Linked DNA regions of Homo sapiens: all the other regions are reported to be linked to region 1. Evidence: microRNA targets listed by miRTarBase, many of them from high-throughput screens and not tested one by one. Region 1 holds a microRNA gene; each other region holds the end of a gene's coding sequence.
Evidence for each region. The annotated mature microRNA hsa-miR-550a-3p reads UGUCUUACUCCCUCAGGCACAU and lies in region 1 at 1,881-1,902, opposite strand. An mRNA with a match to its seed (bases 2 to 7 or 8) in the 3' UTR can be bound and repressed. Matches are read on the target gene's strand: a 7mer-m8 pairs with bases 2 to 8, a 7mer-A1 pairs with bases 2 to 7 and ends in A, and an 8mer does both.

Region 1 (3,242 bases):
CCAGATGGAAATCCTATAGCCACTCAAATTTAACAGGCCTAAAAGGAACTCATTATCATTTCCTAAAACTTGTTATTTTCATCTTTAATACTGGTTAAAGACATCACTGTGTACCCAGGTTCTCAATTCTATCAGTTCTACCTTAGAAATCTCAATCAAATCTAACTTTTCTTCTCCCTCACCAATGCCATCTTTTCAACGTAGGCATCTTCTATCAGTTATATTCTAAAAGAATCCTAACTTATCCTCCTGCTATCACACTCTCCTCCTTAAGAACTGAATCCTGATCAGGGTTGCTGCATACAGCCTGAAGTCTGCACCACTAGAGAAGGTTGCCATCCATGTAAACTACGAATGTTAATTGTGCCCAATGGCCTAATCATGATACTCCCCCTGCTTTCAAACTTCATTAGATAAAACAAACCTACAGCACTATAAAATCCTTCAACTGGCTCCACTTTCTATTTTTCTAGCTTCAGGTGCTCATCATTCCTCTATGCACCCTACAGTCCAGACATATTTAACTTTTCAGTATGCCCTATCAAAACCCAAGCTTTTGTGGATTTTTCTTTAGTCTACAGTGCCCTCTCTCCATAAAACTTCTAAATCCTTCAAACTACAGTTCAAATGTACCCTCCTCTGTGAAGCATTTTTTGACTAGCCTAGACAAAGATACTTCACGAAGCATTTTGTTAACAGTTCTATTACTGAATTTGTTGCACTGTATAATGATCACACATATCCATCTCTCAAATTCAATGGAGAGTTGAGCAGTGCATAAAGAAGCCCCACATTTAAACCCTGAATATCTACAATGCCCAGCCCCTAAAAGGGGCTCAATTCATGTTTATTAATACTATACTTACCATATGCATTAGTACAACTTTTTAAAAGTAAATAAAAACTGAGTTTTAAAAAAAAGTTGCATGTTCAGCTGTCAATCTAAGTCTATAATCCATGTGGCAGACAGAATTGATGTGACTATTCTTGATTCCTACACTTCCTGGTGTTTAAACCTTTGTATAATTCCCTCCCCTTGCACGTGAACTGGACCTATGACTTGCTTCTAATCAATGAAATACAGCAAAGGCAATGGGTTGTATGTGATTACATGTACACGATTATGTAAGAACATAGCACCAGTTCACCTTTGATAGACTCTCTTCCTTTGCTGACTTTGAAGAAGCAAGCTGCTCTGAACCAAACAGACACAAGGAAATAAATTCAGCCAATAACCCAAGGAAGTCTGGGGGCAGACCTTTCCCCAGTTGAGTCTCTACATAACAACCCAGCCCTGGCCAACACTTTGACTGCAGTCTTACAGAGGACACAGCTAAGTTGTGCCCAGCCTCTTGACCCATAGAAATTGCGAGGTAATAAATGTGTTGCTTAGAACAGCTAAATTTGTAGTTATTTGTGAACAAGCAGCTTAGAACATGAATAAAATAAAAAAAAAAAGAAAATGAATAAAATCAGAACCTAAGGTATTTCTGAACTCTTTGTTCACAAAAAGGCCTATGTTTTGTCCAATTTCTAAACAAATAAATGTCATGTATATGCAAAATTAAAACACAGACTAACATTTCAAATAAACAATAGTTCTTAAGAATATTCACATAAGGTAAAACTTAGGAAGTAATCTGCTACATAAAGCAGTTCCTACACTCTCTTTTAACACATTTGCCAGTATACCCAATTGTACATAATACTTAGTACATGTAATAAGTTTAATATTAGGGCAATTCTCCTTACAAACCCAAATAATAATAAATAGTTTAAAAGTTGATATCTAATTAATGATATTTGGTAATCAAAAGAACTTACTTACTGGTCACCAGGCAAAGCAATCAAATTGGAGGAGAGCAAGAGACTCGCTGGAGATGTGCCTGAGGGAGTAAGACACTATCTGACAACAACAGGGCTCTTACTCCCTCAGGCACTGCACCAGCCAGCAAAGCATCAAAATACCAGGTTCTTAGGTCACGCTGCTCTCAGATCAGGTGATGCCCTGTGCAACTCACCAATCCTCCCCACCTTGCAGTCAAGAATAGTTCCAAAAAATCCCCAAAGCAGAAACGTCCATGACACAGGCCACACTTACACACAGCAAAACATATAACACGAAGGTATGAAATTACAAGTGAGAAACAATAACCACCAAAATTCTTATTACTTCAGGAGTGGCAGGGGTTGTGGTTAGAAGGCTCATTTTTCTTAGAAAGAGGCAAACATTCCTCTTTGGCCACTCCCCATAAAAGCCTTCAATGGCACAAAATAACATTCAGGAATAGGAAGTAGATTAATTAGAGTATCCCAAATTCAAACATTTTGGCACTTGATATTGGTAAGAAGAGATAACTGAGACCAATTCCATAATGGTTAATTGATGAAGACAACCTAACAGCATAAAACTTCACATCTGCTTAAAAATTAAGAGAAATCGTCCTAGAAATACAGGTCTTATTCAACATATTCAGTTTTAAGAGATAACCCACACTCCTTCAATATAAGAAAACATGTTGCACAAGTAACAAGGCACCTGAGTTACAATCAGACTACTGAAATACTCATGAGCAAGCCACACCCAAAAAAGCTCAAGAAAATCAGGAGGCCAAAAGCAACCCAGCACCACTAGTTGTCTTAGATTAAGTCATTTTACATTTTCACTTCCGGACTCAAAGATACATTATAGAAGTCCACACGATGTCTCTGGAAATAATCTCCATGTATTGGTATATTTCTATAGCCCAATTCATCTACCCCATCCTTGCTGCATCATTAAAGGCTATTTGACCACTCATGTTATGCTCTTATGAACAATAGCTACTTGACAGTGGAAAAAAAAACGTAGACGTAAATTAAAGCCAAACAAACCCTAAAATACCGTCAAGATTTTTAAATATTAGGAAATACCCTTAAGACCTTTTTTAAAACAAAGGTGATGGACGACACTAGCAGTAGTCAAGAAAGCGTCTGTTCACTTTAACACTCCTCAGTCTGAAAAGAATAATAAGGACAAGATTTACTTCACCTAAGAACTCCTAAATATAATCACATTCTGATGTCCGGCAACTCAATTCTAGGAAATTTCTACACACTGAAATATCTGGATTAGGCATTTTTCTTCCAGTTCTCTAGAGAGAATAAGAGTGTATATAGCGAAAATAGATGTCCAAAAGACAGCAAAACATAAAACCAACACAGAAAACTTCCTCGTTCAATGTGGCAATTCATTATGAGGG
Region 2 (3,000 bases), not on the chromosome of region 1:
TTCCGTGCCATGACAGCTGCACATGCCACATTGGGTGTCCTGGGTCCTCTGTGACAAGAACCTTACTGAGGTCTCTGTGTGGTCTGAGATTAGCACCAGCAGCATTGGACCGTTGCCTTCTTTCTTCCTCCAACAGAAATGCCTCCACGGCTGTGTACGCCTGTTGCAACCCCATCCAGGAGACATATTTCCAGCAGCTGGCACCTGCAGCACGGAGCTCCGGCTTCCCAAACCCTCAGGATGGCGCCTTCAGCCTCTCCGGCAAAGCAAAGCAGAAGCTGCTGAAGCACGGGGTGAACTTGCTCTGAACTGCACCCAGGAGGTGACTGGGAAGGAGAAAACCAGCAAAGGAAGCTCTGCCTTTTATAATTGAAAAGGCCCCTCTATTTTATTTTTCTTGAAAACATTCCCTTTTTTAGGAACCAAATGATATTTGAGTTTTTGTTATTCCTTTTGCAGATTGGGATGTGTTTTGGGGGCAGGGGTTAGTTCTTCAGGTCGGCAGACCCAGAGCACTTGATAAAGAACTGTATTTAATCGGTAGTGTTGGGGCCGGGACGGGCTTGGCTCCCTCTCTGCCATACTGAGCCTGAGGTATTTCATATCTCCTGCTGTTCCATCCCAGCTTGAATTGGTGCCACAAGCTTCCAAGTTGGCATTTTTTCTAGAACCTGATCGTCCACTAGCCCAGAGTGTGTGTGTTCAACCCCCACACCAGGTGGTGGTAGGCGGTGTGACTGCACAGCGAGGTGCCGGATCTGTGAGCAGGCCGACTCCACTCCCACGCCGCAGGTAGGTTTCTCCAGTGCGCTCTTGCTGGGAGGTCCGGATCGTTCCTGCAGGGAAGCGGCAGCACACGGAGACCACTTGGTTGAATTCTGTTGGAACTCTACTCAAATCTAGGGGCGTCTTCTTTGGACCCACAATGGGGGCAAGCCTTAATAATATGGAAGGGAGTTTGGGCTTTAGAGATCCCTTTATAAAAGCTCTGGGGGCTGAGCCCTGAGAATTCAGTGACAACAGGACCAACCTGCGCTGCCTTTGACTACAAGTGGGCCGTGCAGCTGGTTCCTCTCGAGCGAGTGTCCCTAAATAGGAGTTTACAAGATGTCTGGGGGTAAAAGCACTGTGCTTTTCAGTGGTGGCTGCGTGAAAGGGAGCGACACTCAGCTGTGTGTTCCTGGGCTTGTGTGGTACTTAGAACCTCAGTTCTATTACGTTATAGTCAGACATTTTTTTGACAGTATGAGACAGACTGCAGGATGAAAATATTTGTCAAAATCTTAACTGAATGTTTACTGGAAGTACTTGAGATTCCATTTGAGAGTTGTATTGTTAATAATTTCATGTCAGTGAACTGATATCTGATGTTTATGATATGGTGTCTTTTTCTTGAAACAAGCTTCCAAGGGCTAGAAATAAAATAGCCAAAAAATGCTGGAGTTCTGAGTAATTAAATGGCAGCATTTTTTTGTGACAAAGGTAAGGGTTAAGACAGTGTGTGTGTGTGTGTGTGTGTGTGTGTGTGTGTGTGTGCGCGCGCGCGCGCGCGCGTAACGTGGGCGCATCCCTCTTTTCCTTCCCTGGGTTCAGTGTGGCTGGGTAAGGACCGTCTGTTTGTAGGGCTGCCAGGCTGCAGCCTGCTGCTCCAGGGAGCACCAGCTGCAGCTGATCCAATACACCAAGCCTGTGTCTCCCTCTTCTATCACCTCTCTCCAGGATCTCTGCTGTCTCTTGGATCCCATCTGCCTAGATGGAAGAGGATCCTATCCGAAGCTAGGATAAATGTTGTCTTACTCCTCTGCTATGTTCTCCCAGAAAAAATTGATTACAAGTTCTCTGCTGTGGTTGCTGCAGCTCCAGGAAGTCCCCGCAATGTCTCACGTTGTCTTTGACCAGTGGTCCCCAGTACCAGGCCAGCGAAGACAACTTTATAATGTCATTTGTGTTGTGAAAATTCTTCCACTGACCCAAAATGGAACCGTACAAAGCCTATCCGTGTATATGGAAAAGTCTCATGCACCTGGATTAACTCAGAAAAAGTAAAGTCCTGAAACTTCACTTTGCAGGTGTGCCCCTTTCTTTCCTCCTTTGATCCTGCTTAGTTTCTGCAGTGGAGGTTCTGCTCAGAGCCCCAGGGCACTGGCAGCTGCAGCCGTCATCTCTAAAGCTTGGTAACTGTGGCCCAGAGGCTGCAGAGAAGAAACACTTAACCCGCTGTTTTCCCGTTTTTTAATATTTCAGAGGTTTCAGGGGGTCACTCAGGACACGGTTAATCCCACAGCCCCAGGCCCATCCCCTCAAAATTAGCGCCCCCAGAGTACGGGCCAAGCGACGGACAGCCAAGCAGCATGTTCTTGCTGGAATGGGCACCACAACCTCTTATGGCCATGTTTCCCAAGGGAAGGCAGTGTGCAGGACAGCCTGCCCACCCTGGACTCCTAGTTGACACCGAGTGCCACTGTCAGTGATCCAGGACCACAGATTCTAGTGACTCTTCAGGGCAGAAAAGCCTCTGTTTTGGCTTCCTCTGTGCCAGCCATCTGCCACCTGTGAACTGTAAGGATAAAGGTCGCATGAGTGATTAATAGTGGTGTGTTAGTCCGTTCTCACGGTTCTAATAAAGACATACCCGAGACTGGGTACTTTATAAAGGAAAGAGGTTTAACTGACTCACAGTTCTGCAGGGCTGGAGAGACCTTGGGAAACTTATGATCATGGCAGAAGGGGAACCAAACACATCCTTCTTCACATGGTGGCAGCAAAGAGAAGTGCAGAGTGAAAGGGGGGAAAAGCCCCTTATACAACCATCAGATCTCACGAGAACTGTCACAAGAACAGCATGGAAGTAACCACACCCATAATTCAATTACCTCCCACCAGGTCCCTCCCACGACATGTGGGGACTATGAGAACTACAAAATGAGATTTGGGTGGGAACACAGCCAAACCATATCAAGTGGCAATCAGATTCCTACTGGGAAAGGACCCCTAGAGGGG
Region 3 (3,000 bases), not on the chromosome of region 1:
TTCACTATCCCACAACCCAACTCTGCTTGTCAAAAATCCACTTTTGGAACCCAATAAAAATGAATATGCAAGTTTAACATGTTGGCTGGGCGCAGTGGCTCAAGCCTGTAATCCCATCACTTTGGGAGGCTGAGGTGGGTGGATCACTTGAGGTCAGGAGTTCCAGACCAGCCTGGCCAACATGGTGAAACCTCACCTCTACTAATAATACAAAAATTAGCTGGGTGTGGTGGCAGGCGCCTGTGATCTCAGCTACTCGGGAGGCTGAGGTGGGAGAACTGCTTGAACCCAGGAGGCAGAGGTTGCAGTGAGCTGAGATCAGGCCACTGAACTCCAGCCTAGGTGACAAGAGTCAAACTCCGTCTCAAAAAAAAAAAAAAAAAGAAAAAAAGAAAAAAGTTTTAACATGTTTATGAAGTACCCATTACATGCCTTCTTCCATGAGTTTTTCCAATTCATTCCCACTAGGATCAATCTCGTCCCCTCTACTCAATTCCCATAACACTATTATTTGTGGCATTCATCACACAGTATCTGTAGCTTTATGTATGTTTTCTCTCCTAGTAGATTCTAAGCAACTTGAGAGTAGGAATGGTGCCTCCATCTTTATTTCTGTCTCCATCTTAATATCCTATACCTAGAAGATACCAGGAAGTGTCAGCTGAATAAATGAATCTGAACCTTAATCTCAAAGGCTATGCGGCAGTAAGAAATGGAATGGACAAAAGGAAACGTGAATTTGATATGACTTAAAGTTTTAGATTAAGGAAAACTTCCCTACCTGATTATATCTGTTTAAAAGAAGAGCAAAAGTGTTTTTAACAGATGGAATCTTGCTGTGTTGCCCAGGCTGGAGTACTACAGTGGCTATTTATAGGTGCAATCCCACTACTGATCAGCACAGGAATTTTGACCTGCTCCATTTCCGACCTGGGCCAGTTCACCCCTTCTTAGGCAACCTTGTTGTTCTCCACTCCCAGGAGGTCACCATACTGATGCCAAATTTAGTGAGGACATCTGACCTGCATAGCACACTACAGTGCAGAACTCCTGGGCTCAAGCAATCCTCCTGCCTCAGCCTCCCAAGAAGCTACAGGCAGTACAGGCAAGTGCCATTGCACCCAGCTAAAAGAAAAGCAAATTTTAAATACATACCCTGCTGGGAAACTAAAGTACTAAGTGAACAACACTTACGTGCTTGGATTAGTATAATTCACAGCTATACTATTAAGAAATCTCTGCTGTGTAAATTGGAATGCGAATTCCTTTTTTTTTTTTGAGATGGAGTCTCTCTGTTGCCCAGGCTGGAATGCAGTGGCGCGATCTCCGCTCACTGCAACCTCCGCCTCCCAGGTGCAAGCGATTCTCCTGCCTCAGCCTCCCGAGTAGCTGGGATTACAGGCACCCACCCACCATGCCCAGCTAATTTTTGTATTTTTAGTAGAGACGGGGTTTCACCATGTTGGCCGAGCTGGTCTCGAACTCATGACCTCAGGTGATCCACCTGCCCCAGCCTCCCAAAGTGCTGGGATTATAGGCGTGAGCTACCACGCCCGGCCTATAATGGGAATTTCTAAAATGTTGATATTTAATTCCACAATATGAACCAAGGAAAATTTTACTAGCAGAAATTTATGTATGTAATAAATCATTAGCCTCATATGCACATTATTTGAAATATGCATGATTGGTCATTTTAGTTTTCCCAATAATAATTTATCACTTATCTTATATCCCACTAGTCACACACTAGCAGGCAAATGGTAGCAAGTCTCAAATATGTAAGAAAGGTTTAAAGAAGAAAAAGTAAAAAAACCGTCCAGAATTCTATCCATTGTGTATTTTTCTGTGACTGGAGTTGACATAATTAGTCAATCTTAGCAATAATGTATTGGGTTCACTGGGTGTTCTGAGGATGCACCATTTGAACCACCGGTAAAAGGGTACAGAATGTGTATTGAGAGTCACTTCAATGGCTTCTCAATGACACCACACCAAAGGAGGAATACCTGAAGAGAGAATGGAAACACTGCAGGCAGGATGATTTAAGAACCTGGAAATAAGGAATTTAATCTTGTTCAGCTTGAGGAGTATAACTAAAATTACTATCCTGAGTAACCTGTACTAAATCCATCACTCTGGTAGAATCAGATCAGCTGAGTTTAAATGTCAAGAAAAAATAGACACACACAAAAGTGGCTTTGATTACATAAGTCAGAGGAGGGGGAGCCTACAATAGCTCTTCCCCACATCACACCCCCAAGGCTCCTTCTTAGGGACAGCAACAGCTTTGTCAATGACACAAATGCAGGGTGGCATGAGGTTTCCAGCAGCTTAACATTTTAATTTGGGGTGGGGGTGGAAGAAAATACATAAGTTGCTTTTTGCTCCCCCATCCTAATGCCTTGGGGACCAGCCAGGCTGACCCAAATGGAATCCAGAGCGAGAGTGGGGCCTTGGGTTCCCCGAGGAGTAAAGGGGGCAGATCCAGAACAGAGCAGAAACGGTGATAATTATCTGTATGAAAAAGTAAGGATACTCTAGGTGAGAAGGACTAGCATCAATCTAGATAGCAAACTGGGAAAAAGGAAGAGGAAAAAAAGGAAGAGGTGGCAGCAGGAATAATAAAAGAGAGCCAGACACTTCAGCCTGAGAAATGTGGCTTCTTTTCAGGGTTAGTGGGAAAGATACAAAGAGGCAGATTAGCATCAAGGATCAGGGATCCACAGCAAACAGATGAAGCCCCAACAACTCTTTTTGGTGCTGTTTATCACTTGGCTTGCTTCTGGGACTCAGCTCAATTCTTAGGTGAATTTGGTATTTCCCATCTTGGGTAGTTCCCTGAACTTTAATATCAGGGAACCAATTAAACACACCCAGGAGGCCTGAATTTTGTCTTAATGTGTCAGGGCCCAAGTTACTGGCTCTGTGGGCCCTATTTCCTTAGTTGTATGGATTCTACCTCTAGCAGTATCCCTTCTGAGAAGACTAAATTTGAGA

Region 2: miRTarBase lists HPS4 as a target of hsa-miR-550a-3p. Seed matches in the 3' UTR shown: 7mer-A1 at 1,491-1,497.
Region 3: the mRNA of TPM3 is a reported target of hsa-miR-550a-3p. The part of its 3' UTR that is shown has no 7-base or 8-base seed match.

The regions. Positions count from the first base shown.
Region 1 is chr7:32,731,701-32,734,942 of GRCh38, reverse strand. MIR550A2 (microRNA 550a-2) reads right to left here and starts at 1,962; the gene lies at 1,866-1,962. It overlaps MIR550B2 (microRNA 550b-2), which reads left to right and starts at 1,866; the gene lies at 1,866-1,962.
Region 2 is chr22:26,450,541-26,453,540 of GRCh38, reverse strand. It overlaps HPS4 (HPS4 biogenesis of lysosomal organelles complex 3 subunit 2), which reads left to right. Exons shown (of 14, transcript NM_022081.6): 14 at 137-2,659. The coding sequence ends at 308. Among named protein-coding and RNA genes, the nearest start is that of ASPHD2, 23 kb to the right of the region's middle.
Region 3 is chr1:154,165,424-154,168,423 of GRCh38, forward strand. TPM3 (tropomyosin 3) reads right to left here. Exons shown (of 10, transcript NM_152263.4): 10 at 1-2,517. The coding sequence ends at 2,514. It also overlaps the pseudogene RN7SL431P. Among named protein-coding and RNA genes, the nearest start is that of NUP210L, 12 kb to the left of the region's middle.